Linked DNA regions of Homo sapiens. The protein of the gene in region 3 purifies or fractionates together with the protein of the main gene of each other region. This does not show direct contact. Each region holds a gene or a part of one and is shown on either strand. Other genes may lie near its edges.

Region 1 (7,046 bases), on a different chromosome or scaffold from region 3:
GCCTGACTGTAGCCCTGGCTAGCAGGGAGGCTGAGGTGGGAGGTTTACCTGAGCCTGGGAAGTTGAGGCTCCAGTGAGCCATGATCCTGCCACTTCACTACAGCCTGGGTGACACAGTGAGACCCTGTCTCAAAAAATAAAAATAAAACTAAAGATAGATCTGGGAGCCAAACAGAGTAAGAAACACATTGTTTACCATGTAAACAGGGTCTATATAGAAGTAGGGCCAGGAGCTGTGGCCCACATCTGTAATCCCAGCACTTTGGGAGGCTGAGGCAGGAAGATTGCTTAAAGCTATGAGCTTGAGACCAGCCTGGGCAACAAAGCGAGACCCAATCTCTATAAAAAATAAAAAGGCTGGGCATGGTGCCTCCCGCCTATAATCCCAGCACTTTGGGAGGCCAAGGTGGGAGGATTGTTTGAGCCCAGGAGTTTTGAGACCAGCCCGGGCAACATAGAGAGACCCGTCTCTATTAAAAATAAAGAAAGGAAATTAGCCTGGTGTGCTGGTACACACCTGTGGTCCCAGCTGCACAGGAAGGTGAGGTGGGAGGATCCCATGAGCCCAAGACTTCGAGGCAGCAGTGAGCTATGATAGCGCCACTTCACTCCAGCCTGGGCAACAGAGTGAGACCCCATCTCTTAAAAAAAATTATTTTTTAATAAAAATAAAGTCAGTGAAACCTCAGCTGAAATTGCAATAAAATTTCAATTTCGGCCTTATTTGACATCCATTTTCATTTACTTGAGAAGTTATCTATGCCATGTATTGTGTATCTCAGTAGATGTGACATACTAACAGTAAGAGCAATTGCATTGTACGCTCTTCTCTAACAACACTGACTGCAGAGACATGTAGTGTATTTTTTTCATCATCTGTTGAATTACAAAGCATGGAGACAGATGAAACATGATTCTATTGATTATATGAGTAGAACTCTCACATAATCTGGTTGTCTACTTTTCTGGGTGGTGGTGTTTGTTTGTTTGTTTGTTTGTTTTTGAGATGGAGTCTCGCTCTGTTGCCAGGCTGGAGTGCTGTGGCGCGATCTCGGCTCACTGCAACCTCTGACTCCCTGGTTCAAACAATTCTCCTGCTTCAGCCTCCTGAGTAGCTGGGATTACAGGCACGTGCCGCCACGCCCAGATAATTTTTGAATTTGTTAGTAGAGACAGAGTTTTACCATGTTGGCCAGGCTGGTCTCAGTCTCCTGAACTCATGATCCGCCCACCTCAGCCTCACACCCGGCTTTTTTTTTTTTTTGAGATGGAGTCTCACTTTGTCACCCAGGCTGGAATGCAGTGGCACAGTCTTGGCTCATGGCAACCTCCGCCTCCAGGGTTCAAGCAATTCTCCTGCCTCAGCCTCCTGAGTAGCTGGGATTACAGGCGCCCACCACTAGGCCCAGCTAATATTTTGTGTTGTTTTTGTTTTTGTTTTGAGACAAGAGTCTCTGTCTCTTGCCCAAGCTGGAGTGCAATGGTGCGATCTCGACTCACTGCAACCTCTGCCTCCCAGTTTCAAGCAATTCTCCTGCCTCAGCCTCCCGAGTAGCTGGGATTACAGATGCCCATCACTGTACCCAGCTAAATTTGTATTTTTAGTAGAGACGGGGTTTCGCCATGTTGGCCAGGCTGGTTTCGAACTCCTGACCTCAGGTGATCTGCCTGTCTCAGCCTCCCAAAGTGTTGGGATTACAGGCGTGAGCCACTGCACCTGGCCTAATATTTTGTATTTTTAGTAGAGATGGGGTTTCACCATGTTGGCCAGGCTGGCCTTTAACTCCTGACCTCATGATTCGCCCACCCCAGCCTTCCAAAGTGCTGGGATTACAGGCGTGAGCCACTGCACCCGGCCCATTTTTGTTTGTTGTTTGAAGTATGCGAGTATAATTAAAGGAATATTGATGGTAGAAATGGGAGAAGAAGTTTGTCACATAAATCATGTAAGAGTTCCTGTTGGGATAACAATAAAAGATTTATATTCCATAATTAACCTAAATAATTTTTATTTTTTTTAAATTAGGTTGTTGCTTGTGAACTTGACCCAAGGCTAGTAGCTGAACTTCACAAAAGAGTTCAGGGCACGTGAGTATACATAATAGAATTAAAGTGCATTTCAATCTCATGAAACAACATTCTTTTTACATTTCTTCTTTTCTCATCAGGCCTGTGGCCAGCAAACTTCAAGTACTGGTGGGTGATGTGCTGAAAACAGATTTGCCATTCTTTGATACTTGTGTGGCAAATTTGCCTTATCAGGTATGTCCTCACATTTTCAGGAACATCATACTAACTGTTCCTCTGATGTGTCTTTCCCGGAAATAACTAGTTAATTCTCTTACAGATCTCTTCACCTTTTGTCTTCAAGCTGTTGCTACATCGACCTTTTTTCAGGTTTGTGACAAAAGACTAGAGTTACTGCCAAATTTTGAAAGACTTACAGTTCAGGTGGTGAACATAGCCAAAAATGAGTCAGGTCAGTTGAAAAACTACTGAAGAATTTTTGTAGAAAATGTTGATTTGTATGGAGGTCTTTCTCTCTTTAATTGAGAGGTTATTTGGGGGTAGTGTGCTGGAAGTCCTGCTTCTGAGACCAGACAGCCTTTCCCTATTTTTGAATCTTCCTGCCGTTAAGTCTAGGTTAGAATTTTTATTACCTTATGTCTAGACAATTGCAGTGGTTTCCTAACTGGTCTCTAGTATAAGAGGTCTTCAAAAAGTTCATGGAAAATGTGTATTATGAAAAAAACTTGCATGGATTTCAAAATTTTTTTGCACCAAAATAAACTCTGTACTAACTGAGCAGGATCTAGTGTGAGGCACTGAGAAGGATAAGACATCAGTTTGAAAAGAGCCCCTATCAGAGCAACATGAACTCTGCTAAAATTCAAGTAAGAACAAACATCCAATTTATGGTGAAACCTGGTTGGAAGAATGGTGAAATCATTGATGCTTTACAAAAAGTTTATGGAGTCACACCTGTAATCCCAGCACTTTGGGAGGCCAAGGCAGGCGGATCATGAGGTCAGGAGATCGAGACCATCCTGGCTAACATGGTGAAACCCCACATCTACTAAAAATACAAAAAACTAGCCGGGCGTAGTGGCGGGCGCCTGTAGTCCCAGCCACTCGGGAGGCTGAGGCAGGAGAATGGCGTGAACCCGGGAGGCGGAGCTTGCAGTGAGCCGAGATCGCGCCACTGCACTCCAGCCTTGGCGACTGAGCGAGACTCCGTCTCAAAAAAAAAAAAAAGTTTATGGGGACAATATCCCAAAGAAATCAGCAGTTTACTAATGGATAACTCATTTTAAGAAGGGCTGAGACAATGTTGAAGATGAAGCCTACAGTGGCACACTGGCCATATCAATTTGTGGGAAAACATTCATCTTGTTTGTTCCCTAAGTGACGAGGAACAACATTCAACAGCACAAACAATAGCCAACACCATAGACATCACAGTTGGTTTAGCTTACACAATTCTGACTGCAAAATCAAAGTTAAACAAACTTTGTACTTGATAGATGCCAAAACTGTCATACCCTCTTTTCTGAAAGATTTTATGAAAAAACAAAACAAAAAACATTGTACTCAAATCAGCTGCAGATAAAAGCAGAGCTTCCAGTGGAAATTTTACATAACTGGGATCAAGATCCTGAAACATGGCTGGGTGGAGTGGCTCACACCTATAATCCTAGCACTCTGGGAGGCCGAGGCGGGCAGATCACTTGAGGTCAGGAGACCAGCCTGGCTAACATGGTGAAACCCCATCTCTACTAAAAATAAAAAAATTAGCTGGGCATTGTGGTGGGCACCTATAATCCCAGCTACTCGGGAGGCTGAGGCAGGGGAATCGCTTGAACTCAGGAGGCGGAGGTTGTAGTGAGCCAAGATTGTGCCACTGCACTCCACACTCCAGCCTGGGCAACAGAGCGAGATTGTCAAAAAAGAAAACAAGATCCTGAAACATTTCTTCAAAGAATTACAAAGAATTGTAATGGAGATGAAATATGGCTTTACCAGTGTGATCCTAAAGACAAAGCAGAGTGAAAGTGATGCCTACCAAGAAACGGAGTGGCTCCAGTCAAAGCAAAAGCAGACCAGTCAAGAGCAAAGGTCATAGCAACAGTTTTTTTTTGAATGCTCAGGGCATTTTGCTTGCTGACTTTCTTTAGGACCAAAGAATGAAAACATCTGCTTATTACAAGAGTGTTTTGAGAAAGTTAGCTAAGATGTAGCAGAGTAACTCCTGGGAAAGCTTCCCCAGAGATTCCTCCACCATAATACTTCTACTCCTTCCTCTCATCAGACGAGGGCAATTTTTCGAGAGTTTCAATGGGAAATGGTTAGGTATCCACCTTACAGTCCTGATTGGGCCCCTTCTGACTTCTTTTTATTTTATGAGACAGTCTTGCTCTGGTGCCCGGGCTGGAGAGCAGTGGTATGATCTGCACTCACTGCAGCCTCCACTTCCTGGGCTCAAGCATTCCTCCCACCTCAGCCTCCCAAGTAGCTGCGATTACGGGCATGTGCCACCACACCCAGCTAATTGTTGTATTTTTTTTAGAGATGGGTCTTGCCATGTTGCCCAGGCTGTCTCCCCCTCCTGAGCTCAAGTGATCTGCCCACCTCAGCCTCCCCAAATGCTGGGATTATTACAGGCATGAACCATGGTGCCCAGCCCTTCTGATTTATTTTCGTTTCCCAGTCTTAAAAAATCTTGAAAGGGCACTCTTTTTTCTTCAGTTAATAATGTAAAAAAAAAAAACCTGCAGTGACATGGCTAAATTCCCCAGAGCCTCAGTTTTTTTGATATAGACTAAAATGCTGGTATCATCACTTACAAAAGTGTCTTGAACTTGATGGAGCTTATGTTGAATAATAAAGTTTATGTTTTTTCTTTTTTTTCTTTTTCTGAGACAGGCTGGAGTACAGTGGTGACATCTCAGGTCACTGCAACCTCAGCCTCCCTGGGCTGGGCTCAGATGATTCTCCTACCTCAGCCTCTTGAGTAGCTGGGACTATGGGGGTGTACCAGCATGCCTAGCTAATTTTTGTGTTTTTTTTAGAGAAGGGGTCTCACCATGTTCAGCCCAGGCTGGTCTTGAACTCCTGAGCTCAAGCGATCTGTCCGCCTTGGCCTCCTAAAGTGCTGTGGATTATAGGTGTGTGCCGCCACACCAGCCTTATTTTATCTTTTAATTCAATATTTCCATGAACTTTGAAGTCACTTTCTATATTATATACTAGTGGCTTTCAAACTGCAAGTCAAAAACTAGTGGTTATAAAATTAATGAGTCATGACCATTCTTTTTTTTTGTAATCACATGGAATAGAATATATCACAGGGCATTGCATGTAGTCCAGGTGATTATGGTTTCATGAAACTTTTGTTTTGAAATACAATATAAACACATATACATACAGACATTTGTGGCTTGGCTTGCAATGCCAAATGTATTTTTAGTGTGACTCATTGTCAAAAGTTTGAATGTCAAAGTGTAGCTTTGAAGATACTCTTCTGTTCGTTAACCCCTACAAAGTCTTCCCCATTGCCTGCTGAATAAAAAGTCTACATCTTTTGGCTGGGTGTGGTGACTCATGCCTGTAATCCCAGCACTTTGGGAGGCTGAGGTGGGCGGATCACCTGAGGTCAGGAGTTCCAGACCAGCCTGGCCAACATGGTGAAACACTGTCTCTACTAAAAATAGAAAAATTGGCCAGGGGTGGTAGTGTGCGCCTGTAATCCCAGCTACTCGGGAGGCTGAGGAACGAGGATCACTTGAACCTGGGAGACGGAAGTTGTAGTGAGCCGAGATTGCGCCATTGCACTCCAGCCTGGGCGACAAGAGCGAAACTCCGTCTCAAAAAAAAAAAAAAAGTCTACATCTTTTAACCCGTCAAATCAAGGAAACATTGAACGTCACAATCTGCCTCTTCAGTCTCACCTCTTCCTTAAAGGTGTTTGCTACCCCATAAATATATTACTGCTACTGAAACAATTTTATTTCACTTTGTTTTCATAGAAGAGGTGATGGACTAGTGCTGATTTGAAACATCTCATCCAGTCATTAAAGGCTTATATTTGCAAGCTATCTTGCCATGAGGAGTACAGCAATTATAAAAACAAAGCCAGCTCTCTCATTCTGTGGCAATAAAAAAAAGGCTGAATGTGTTCTCCTACCTTATAATCAGCTGCCAATGCTTTGCTATTTCTCTCCCAAGAAAATTCATTGCAGTTAAAATTCATTTATAGTTGACAATGACCATTTTCCTTATTCCTTTCTGCTTTCTTTTCAGGTGTGCTATACTTATGTTTCAAAGAGAATTTGCCCTCCGACTGGTTGCAAAACCTGGAGATAAGTTATACTGCAGACTCTCAATTAATACACAGCTGTTGGCACGTGTGGACCATCTAATGAAAGTAAGTGAATTTTGTTTTCTTTCTCTTTTTTCTGAGATAGAATCTCACTCTGTCACCCAGGCTGCAGTGCAGTGGCTCACTGCGATCTCTGCCTCCCATACTCAAGCAATCTTCTCGAGTCCCGAGTAGCTGGGACTAGAGGTGTGCGTCACCACGCCTGACTAATTTTTTGGTATTTTTTGTAGACACAGAGTTTTGCTATGTTGCCCAGGTTGGTCTTGAACTCCTGGGCTCAATGATCCATCTGCCTTGGCCTCCCAAAGTGTTGGGATTACAGGTGTGAGCCAAAGCACCCAGCCAGTGATTTTTATTATTGAAATAATCTAGCTTAATTCATCCTTGAGCATCCAGTTGTGCCTTCTGTGAGGATAGCATATCTGGTTACTAAATAAAAGTTGCCTTTGTGAGTACTACTTAAATACTTTTTCATTAACAGGTGGGAAAGAATAACTTCAGACCACCGCCCAAGGTGGAATCCAGTGTTGTAAGGATAGAACCTAAGAATCCACCACCACCCATCAATTTTCAGGTGAGGTTAAAATACTAGCTCATTCAATAAAGGAAAAAAAAGTCCAGGCGGGAAGATGTGTGCCTATAACAGCAGAAAAATATTGAATCAACC
Region 2 (7,046 bases), on a different chromosome or scaffold from region 3:
GGAATGCTAAAGCATTTTAGCTTGGCAAACTTGTTTCATCAGTATCTGGGCCTGGTACTATGCTGAACTAGGTGGTAGAAAGAAAAATGAGACATGGCCCTCATCTTCAAGGACCTTGGGGTGTAAGGCAAAGATGCATTAATTAGTGGAGATATGTCAAATGTGTGTATGGTATACAGATTTTCAGTCATAAAATACATTTTAAGACTTAATTTTTTCTACATAATTTAATCCTTTAAGATATTTCAAGAGGTTTTGAGTCCAAACCCTGGTCTGGTATCTTTGACTTTGAGTCATTTCTGTTTTCCAAATGACATTTTGAAAATTTTAAAAAGGAAGGTTTATTCTGTATTACTTACTTGTTCGCGCTAGTCCTTTTTCCATATCCCAGCATTTCCCTGTATACAATCTTAGTAATCAGCTGTTTAACCTACATTTGATTTTCTTAATTAAAGTGATAGTAAAGTATACCATAGTTTAAAAGGTCAAGAAATAGATAGATTTGGATTGGTTGAAACCTCTGTTCCCATTGGAAGGCAAAATAATAGAGTGGATAAAGCATTGGACTTTAGTCAGAAAGTTTTATGTTCCAGCTTTGTACTGTGCAGTAAGTGGCCTTGAGCAAGTCACTTAACCTCTTCATTTATAATTGCTTCATTTATAATTGATATTTTATGAATTTGCGAGATGACATATTTAGCTTACAGTTTTTATAATCTGATGTTTATAACAACTTCTTTTCACAATGAACTATTTAGGGGTTATTGGGAAGAGGAAATATTTGTGGATGAAGGGGAAATAAAAATTTTTCATTGTGCTCAAGAGAAGCACAGAGTTAAATGCTAGAATCATGATAAATTGAAGCATAGAAAGCTAGTAGGAAAAATAAACCAAATTTGAAGAAAGTTTATGTATCCATACTAAGAGTAAGACTGATCATTTGCTGTATGTTAGCCAGTAAATTACAGTTATTTCAAGTGCACGTTTATATACTGTCTTTAATTTTTGAAGTAAAATCTAGTAGCATTAGTATACTAGTTTTTGCCTATGATTTTTTTCTGATTCATCCATGCGTTCTGCTAGTAGGGAATGAAATTGTCAAATTAAGACTAGGTTAAAATGTATAAGGCTTTTTTTCATTCTTACATGTAATAGCCCTTCATTTATCCTGTGCATTTCAAAACTTAAAACTTTAGGGACAAATACTTTTTAAAAATTCTAACTTCGCTGTTGAGTAACCATATTAGCTAATACTGAGTATTTTTAGATGTCTTCCTTCAGGTTCAGATTAAGGAAAGTAGTTTTATTTTCTAGTATGTGAAATTCCATTTTTGGTATATTTTCTTGCTAAAATTAAAACAGTAATAAACCTTTAGGTGACCTTTCTTGCTGTTTCCCTTTTGAAGGTCATGGATAGTGAGGATGAAGAGGTGGTAATATTCTGAATTGAAAAAACTTACAGTTCTTTGGAGAAGCCTTCAGTTGTACAAGACTGAAATCCTGTGATCAGGATCTTAATCAGTATGATGATAGAAACATTGAACCAACTTTCAAGGTTTTTGGAAAAGTTTGTTATATAATTTTTCAAAAATTTAGCAATTATTTCTGCAGTTTTTATTTAAAGATGGGATGATTAGCAGTTATGGTGTGTTAATTGGGACATTGGTAATGTGATTTAAAATAAAATTATAATACCAGTCTTTTTTAAAAAAGTATGGAACAAACAGTGATAACTATTGTTTCTAAGTAGAATAGATTTTTGTATTACACTGTGGCTTCTGTATTTGTCTGGGTATTTATTTATAACATATTGTAACATAATAGAGTCTTTACTATATTAGGTTTACTTTTGGGAGGAGCAACAACAAAAAAACTTTGTACTGTTCAGAGATACTCTGTGGTATCTATATGATAAATGTTCAGGGCCTGTTGACTTTTGAATTTTAGTAGTAAGTATAGGAAGTTCATTATACTGTCCTCACCAGTTACGTATGAGAGAAATTTTTCTGAATGAAAAACCTGGGGATATGTCTGATTTTTGTTGTTTTGGGGGTTTTTAAAAAAATCTTCAGGCTATAACAATTTTTAAGCTCTTTACTGTTGCTTTTTAATTTGTAAAGGGCAAGTTACATTTACTTGTGAGGTCCACCTATTGTCTTTTTACAAGTAGATTTTGATTTGGTCTTAACAAACAATTTTAGGGTCTTTTTAACACTTCATTGAGTTTTTATTATGAAAATTGTTAAATATACACAAAATAGGGAAAATAGTATAATGAAACCCCAGTATTGATCACCTAGCTGAGATTTTGCCATGCTTGCTATGTCCATCCTCCCTGTTTTGGCAGAAGTATTTTGGAGCACATCCCAAACATCATTTCATCTCTAGTTAGTACATTTATATAAAATAAGAACATTTTCTTATATAATCACTTAATGTAACAAAATTAGTAATATTTTCTTTGTATCAATATCTTAGTTAAAAATAGGTGTTTTGAATGATATTCTAGCTCTGTGCTGTCAGTTATGTAGCCACATGTGGCTATTTAAATTTACATTAATCAAAATTAAAAATTCAGTTTCACAATTACATGAACTGTTTCAAGTGCTCAGTAGCCACATGTGACTGCCATATTGGACAGTGCAGATATGTTTCCATCACTGCTGAAAATTCTGTAGGACAACACTAGTCTAGATGCTTTCTTTATCACTCTGGAGGTGAACCTGAAAGAGATATTTATATTTTCAGAAAATGTGCTAGATTGTTCATTAATGTTTGATTCTTATTTCTTTCAGATGCATAGAAAAAGTAACAACTGATAAAGGTAAGACTTGGTCATCCTTACCTCTAGCGTACATTACACTGATTATCTTTTAATCTGTTAGAAAGCCTCATCATTCAAATTGGTTCCCATTTAAAAGGAATTTTTATTTGGTAAAAAATTACTGGAGTTAGAAAATATTTAGACGACAGCACGTTTGGATAATAGAGTATATTGGCATTATTTAGAAACCTAATAAAGGCAAATCAGATTGTTTGATGGTAATTTATAGTAACTTTTTTAAGCCTTTTATTTTTAAATGAGGTAACAGACTGGAATGATACACAGTATACAGAGTAAAGTGAAGGCAAAAATTTTTATGCTAGTAGAAATACAGATTAAAATTACAGGGTGAAGAATGCTGAGTGTTCTAAGAATTCAGCCTGGTGAATAATTAAATTAGGTCAATATTAGGTCATTTTCCTTTAAGTTTGAGTGTTAGCACACCAGATGTATGTATTATAGTTTTCTGTTTTCCTGGATTATGACAGGAAGCTAATGTTCACTTTTTCAATAACTTTTAAAATACTTTATTCTGGCTTTGCAGATTAGGTTATTAAAATTGCCCTAACGTGTTGGACCAGTTGCTTATTCGTTTCATTTTTGTTTTTTTCTAGTTTTTGGCTGTGTTCCTTGATGTTAAATTCAAACACACAGCATCCTCCTTAAAACTGAACAAATATACTTTTAGGCACATTTCTTTTATTACGTGTGACCTTGACCCAGGCTTGACACAGCCAGTTTCCAAACTCCTAGAATCCACCTAGTATCCATAGCTTTTAAGGTCTGCTTATAGCCTGCTACTATTTCTATAAAAGAATATATGTATATGCATTTTATATATCAGTGTATGTATTACATGTACATGAGAATCTTAAGGTTTTTCTGTTCTTGATAAATAATTCTTCGAGAACGTATAAGGCAAGTTTAAAGCCTGGATTTTGTGCCATATGGAAGAATGATAGTGTAATTTAAGAACCAATAACTTGCATTGGTGGTGGCTGCTTTGTAAATAATTAGGTTTCAATGCTAAGGTTTCTTATTTCTCTGAATTTTGGAATGTGAGTCTAATATTTCATAGTATAGCAGGCAGAGGTTTTTCATACCTGGCATTTTTTTTTTTTTATTTAGAAACCTTGGCATGATTATTTTGTCTAGCAAGTTTTTTGTTCCTGTTGTTGTTACTTAGAAAATAGGTTATGTCTGCCAAAAATGGAAGGTCTCACATTTCTTATTCAGAGATCAATTTGGAGATTTTATGATGTGGAGAAAATATAGAGACAGGTAACAAGTCTAGAGCATTCTGATTAAAACAAAAAGCAACCTGCTTTTGTCAGAGCTGAAATTACCTTACGTGTCCAAAGAAATCACTATGGGTTGCCTTGAGGCGAACTTGAAGAAAGGTGGAAATTTGGAGCCCCTTTTGGAGAGAAAAGTAGATGACCTTTGGGTAGACGTCTTTTTTTTGTTTGTTGAGTAAAGACAGGGTTTAGCCAGGCTGGATTCGAGCTCCTGGCCTCAAGTGATCCGCCTGCCTCGTGTGTAAATGTTTTAAACTAGAAGTTGACTTATTGGCATGTTTTGTGGTTGTGCAGCTGTGGAGAGATTAAAACTACATTCTGGATAATTTGATCCGAAGATCAATCCCACTTTACTGTTTAAAGGCCCTGGATCTAGATATTCTCAAATGCCAATCTTCATCTCTGTTAGTTTACCCATTAAGGTAGCTGTTCAACTCTATGAACAGTAGATAGGTATATAAGAACTGTAACATTCATACAAGATGAATGAATAAAGAAATGGAGGCTCGGGTAGTCACTTTTTCCTGTTGTGTTTCGTATTTAGAATTCACCTTAATTACTTTTCTTCTGGTCATTTAACTTCTCAGTTATTCTGGTACTCTGGAATAGTCCTCATGTTCAGTCTGCTAAATTTTAACTGAAATAACTCATGTTCATTTCAGAAGTTAAGGGTTTTTCAAAACTTTAAACAGGTTTTATTTTTTAGAGGTAAGACTGGCCTTCTGTTATATTAATGCTGAAAAGATATCTTCAGGATTGTTTTTACTCTTATTTACTCAAACCATCTAGAAATTGTATGCCTTCTTTGAGTTGAAGAGAAGAACCTTTGACATACACATAAACAATATTGCACACACAGAGTAGGCAACTTTCCATTAATTTGCAAAGCTGCAAATTAAGTTGCAAAGTTGCAACTTAAAAAAAAAGTTAAGTTGCAAAGTGCTACATTCATTTTTTTCAAACTGAAATAATAAACATGAGTATTAGTTCCTGTTTTTGCTACCCTTTTTTAACCGTGATTGGTGTATAAAACAAATGGAAAGCTACTATGCTAAAATAGTGTTAATTCATTCAACAGGTAATTGTTGAGCATCCACTATGTGTCTGGCGCTATTCTAGGCACTGGATTCTACTGGTAATCAAATAAATGAAGAAGTCAAAACAGTGTAATAATGTTTGATGAAGTTGGAGCTGAGAAAGCTAAGTTTAGATGAAATGATAAGGGAAGACCTTTTGGTGGAGGTGACATTTGAGATTACACCTGAATATGCAGATAGTTAATTTGGACAAGGAACATTCCACACAAAAGTTAAAAAGGAAAAATTACTTCAAACTTGAAAGCTTAGTTTACCACTGGCAGAGGATTATCTTCATGATTGTGGAGTTTCCAAGAGTGTTAGTAGAAATCTTAAGGGATGGAGATCTAGTTCCTTTTTAACTTGGCTTTATGTTTTCATTGTTTCTCTGTTTTGAACCAGTGTTGTACTTTGATTATAAAGTAAAAGAATAGTCTACCTACACGTAATTTTTAGTTATCCCAGTGTTCATTTTAACTTATTTCACTTTCTAACCTCTGACTAGACATGTTATGAAGCCTAATTTTTTTTTCTCCCATCTGTTATGTCCTTAGTGAGGAATAATAGTTAAAACTGCCTCTCAAGATAAAACATAAAAATGGAGACCAGAATACCTTAATGTTTATTAAAGTATGTTTTAAATGTTTAATGGAATGATAATAAATACTGTAGAATCAAGTAGATGTGGGCAGTGCTTCAGTTATTAATGTTAGATAGGTTATTTATTGCAGAACTTCTCAGAAACTTTGATTTTTGAGTAATGTGCAGTGTAAATACCAAAATTTTGCAGCGATTACCTAACCTATTTGACTTATAAGACCCCCTTTTTAAAGAGCATTTCGTAAAACTGGAGTTTACAGAAAACATACTTGGAAATACTGCATGCTTGAAAATTTGATTGTATAAAACTCTGGATCTCAACCTTTTATTCAAAATCATTTTACTCTTTTCAGTTGCTCTTATGAAATAGTGATGTTTGACAGTGATTACTGTGAGTCTCTAACTTGTGTAGTCAGGAAAAAAGAAGTCAGTCATCAGATAAATTCATAACAGATCTCAGCATTTACTTAGATTATTTGGAGCTTAACTGTTAAGTATTTACCTTACCTAGTTTATCATAATCAGCATACTATCTGTAATTATTACTAAAGTATTAGTTTATTTTGATTATTTTTCCTCCTGTCTGGATGACATCCTCAGTTTTTTTCTTATATTGATACAGTCTAATTTATAGCTTATGCCTCTGTGCTCCATGTTTTAAAATTAGAATTAATTTGTTATTAACAGTTTTCATAGATTTCAACAGTTTTATTTTTCATGTATTGAAATATCTTTGATTATCGTATCCTCTCAAATCAGTCTCTTGTATCCCATTCATCTTGGCCTCTTGTCAACTTGCAACCTCAATATAACATTGACTGTTTTTACTTCCTTTACAGATGTGTCTGTTTTATAGTATACTTTTTTGTTGGTTTTTCTTTCTTTCTAGTATATTTAAAGAATATTTTTATTATTTCTAAAAATACAGAAGACACATTTTTATGCTTTTTTTCCCATTCCAGTGAGAAAAATCTAACTTGTAATTCTTACCATTTGAGTTTGTGTACAAAAGGAAGAATCGAGAAGATACTGAGAACATTGTCTTCACAATTCTTTCTTGAAAGATTTTGAATCTCCTTGCTAATGACCTAGTTTTCCCAGTCAAAATAAAATCTTTTAGGTTTTGAATAGAAAAAGAGTTCTGGAAGGAAAATCTGTAGGTGAGAAAGGGCGTGTATAAGCCCAGTCTTAACACTCAGATAGGCTTTTAAGGTTTTTTTTGTTTGTTTTTGAGACAGGGTCTCATTT
Region 3 (3,244 bases):
GCACGCCAAGCCGCCCTACTCGTACATCTCGCTCATCACCATGGCCATCCAGCAGGCGCCCAGCAAGATGCTCACGCTGAGCGAGATCTACCAGTGGATCATGGACCTCTTCCCCTATTACCGGCAGAACCAGCAGCGCTGGCAGAACTCCATCCGCCACTCGCTGTCCTTCAATGACTGCTTCGTCAAGGTGGCACGCTCCCCGGACAAGCCGGGCAAGGGCTCCTACTGGACGCTGCACCCGGACTCCGGCAACATGTTCGAGAACGGCTGCTACTTGCGCCGCCAGAAGCGCTTCAAGTGCGAGAAGCAGCCGGGGGCCGGCGGCGGGGGCGGGAGCGGAAGCGGGGGCAGCGGCGCCAAGGGCGGCCCTGAGAGCCGCAAGGACCCCTCTGGCGCCTCTAACCCCAGCGCCGACTCGCCCCTCCATCGGGGTGTGCACGGGAAGACCGGCCAGCTAGAGGGCGCGCCGGCCCCCGGGCCCGCCGCCAGCCCCCAGACTCTGGACCACAGTGGGGCGACGGCGACAGGGGGCGCCTCGGAGTTGAAGACTCCAGCCTCCTCAACTGCGCCCCCCATAAGCTCCGGGCCCGGGGCGCTGGCCTCTGTGCCCGCCTCTCACCCGGCACACGGCTTGGCACCCCACGAGTCCCAGCTGCACCTGAAAGGGGACCCCCACTACTCCTTCAACCACCCGTTCTCCATCAACAACCTCATGTCCTCCTCGGAGCAGCAGCATAAGCTGGACTTCAAGGCATACGAACAGGCACTGCAATACTCGCCTTACGGCTCTACGTTGCCCGCCAGCCTGCCTCTAGGCAGCGCCTCGGTGACCACCAGGAGCCCCATCGAGCCCTCAGCCCTGGAGCCGGCGTACTACCAAGGTGTGTATTCCAGACCCGTCCTAAACACTTCCTAGCTCCCGGGACTGGGGGGTTTGTCTGGCATAGCCATGCTGGTAGCAAGAGAGAAAAAATCAACAGCAAACAAAACCACACAAACCAAACCGTCAACAGCATAATAAAATCCCAACAACTATTTTTATTTCATTTTTCATGCACAACCTTTCCCCCAGTGCAAAAGACTGTTACTTTATTATTGTATTCAAAATTCATTGTGTATATTACTACAAAGACAACCCCAAACCAATTTTTTTCCTGCGAAGTTTAATGATCCACAAGTGTATATATGAAATTCTCCTCCTTCCTTGCCCCCCTCTCTTTCTTCCCTCTTTCCCCTCCAGACATTCTAGTTTGTGGAGGGTTATTTAAAAAAACAAAAAAGGAAGATGGTCAAGTTTGTAAAATATTTGTTTGTGCTTTTTCCCCCTCCTTACCTGACCCCCTACGAGTTTACAGGTCTGTGGCAATACTCTTAACCATAAGAATTGAAATGGTGAAGAAACAAGTATACACTAGAGGCTCTTAAAAGTATTGAAAGACAATACTGCTGTTATATAGCAAGACATAAACAGATTATAAACATCAGAGCCATTTGCTTCTCAGTTTACATTTCTGATACATGCAGATAGCAGATGTCTTTAAATGAAATACATGTATATTGTGTATGGACTTAATTATGCACATGCTCAGATGTGTAGACATCCTCCGTATATTTACATAACATATAGAGGTAATAGATAGGTGATATACATGATACATTCTCAAGAGTTGCTTGACCGAAAGTTACAAGGACCCCAACCCCTTTGTCCTCTCTACCCACAGATGGCCCTGGGAATCAATTCCTCAGGAATTGCCCTCAAGAACTCTGCTTCTTGCTTTGCAGAGTGCCATGGTCATGTCATTCTGAGGTCACATAACACATAAAATTAGTTTCTATGAGTGTATACCATTTAAAGAATTTTTTTTTCAGTAAAAGGGAATATTACAATGTTGGAGGAGAGATAAGTTATAGGGAGCTGGATTTCAAAACGTGGTCCAAGATTCAAAAATCCTATTGATAGTGGCCATTTTAATCATTGCCATCGTGTGCTTGTTTCATCCAGTGTTATGCACTTTCCACAGTTGGACATGGTGTTAGTATAGCCAGACGGGTTTCATTATTATTTCTCTTTGCTTTCTCAATGTTAATTTATTGCATGGTTTATTCTTTTTCTTTACAGCTGAAATTGCTTTAAATGATGGTTAAAATTACAAATTAAATTGTTAATTTTTATCAATGTGATTGTAATTAAAAATATTTTGATTTAAATAACAAAAATAATACCAGATTTTAAGCCGTGGAAAATGTTCTTGATCATTTGCAGTTAAGGACTTTAAATAAATCAAATGTTAACAAAAGAGCATTTCTGTTATTTTTTTTCACTTAACTAAATCCGAAGTGAATATTTCTGAATACGATATTTTTCAAATTCTAGAACTGAATATAAATGACAAAAATGAAAATAAAATTGTTTTGTCTGTTGTTATAATGAATGTGTAGCTAGTAAAAAGGAGTGAAAGAAATTCAAGTAAAGTGTATAAGTTGATTTAATATTCCAAGAGTTGAGATTTTTAAGATTCTTTATTCCCAGTGATGTTTACTTCATTTTTTTTTTTTTTTTTGACACCGGCTTAAGCCTTCTGTGTTTCCTTTGAGCCTTTTCACTACAAAATCAAATATTAATTTAACTACCTTTCCTCCTTCCCCAATGTATCACTTTTCTTTATCTGAGAATTCTTCCAATGAAAATAAAATATCAGCTGTGGCTGATAGAATTAAGTTGTGTCCAACGGAGACTCATGAACTCTCTTCTCATTAAAAGAGAAACGAAACTTAGCCATCAGGGTAGCTCTGGAGGAGGTGGGAGGAGGGGAGTTAATTCACTCTCGCAGGGGAAGCGTTGTACCGACAGGACATTTTAGGGTAGCCGCTATTTTGCATTTTGTGAAGATTGTTTTAAATTTTGATTCAAAAATGTCGTTCCTAAGAACTTAAAGTTGATAATTTGTTTCCTTCTAAGGAGCTTTTAAATGCAACTTCACACTCCATAGTTGCTTGGGATCACAAAATCATTAATCTCCTTTGATAGCAGGCTCACTTTCCAGTCCACCTATTTCTTTGTAAGTCTTGTTCGGATTGACATCAACAATAACAACACCAGCTCAAGCAGAGGCCTGCCTGCCTGAGCCCTTGTGTATGAACTCCATCCTCACCAGGGCTTGAACTTGGACAGCCTTTACTTTGATCGCCCCACTCCACACCGCGGACAAGATAAAAAGAGCCGTGTGAGTCGCTTAATTAT

What was found.
Region 1: the proteins of FOXA1 (region 3) and DIMT1 purify together in Homo sapiens (affinity purification with mass spectrometry, with the first as the bait; 2 studies listed by BioGRID). This does not show direct contact.
Region 2: the proteins of FOXA1 (region 3) and ZFP91 purify together in Homo sapiens (affinity purification with western blotting; 2 studies listed by BioGRID, with this or other methods). This does not show direct contact.

Annotation. Positions count from the first base shown.
Region 1 is NC_000005.10:62,393,862-62,400,907, reverse strand, and holds part of DIMT1 (dimethyladenosine transferase), read left to right. Parts: intron 1-2,026; coding exon 2,027-2,088; intron 2,089-2,168; coding exon 2,169-2,262; intron 2,263-2,347; coding exon 2,348-2,397; exon of another isoform or gene 2,398-2,479; intron 2,480-6,300; coding exon 6,301-6,424; intron 6,425-6,860; coding exon 6,861-6,953; intron 6,954-7,046. UniProt on the Homo sapiens protein: Specifically dimethylates two adjacent adenosines in the loop of a conserved hairpin near the 3'-end of 18S rRNA in the 40S particle.
Region 2 is NC_000011.10:58,582,061-58,589,106, forward strand, and holds part of ZFP91 (E3 ubiquitin-protein ligase ZFP91), read left to right. Parts: intron 1-2,795; coding exon 2,796-2,824; intron 2,825-7,046. UniProt on the Homo sapiens protein: Atypical E3 ubiquitin-protein ligase that mediates 'Lys-63'-linked ubiquitination of MAP3K14/NIK, leading to stabilize and activate MAP3K14/NIK. It thereby acts as an activator of the non-canonical NF-kappa-B2/NFKB2 pathway.
Region 3 is NC_000014.9:37,589,040-37,592,283, reverse strand, and holds the end of FOXA1 (hepatocyte nuclear factor 3-alpha), read left to right. Parts: coding exon 1-919; 3' UTR 920-2,732; downstream 2,733-3,244. UniProt on the Homo sapiens protein: Transcription factor that is involved in embryonic development, establishment of tissue-specific gene expression and regulation of gene expression in differentiated tissues.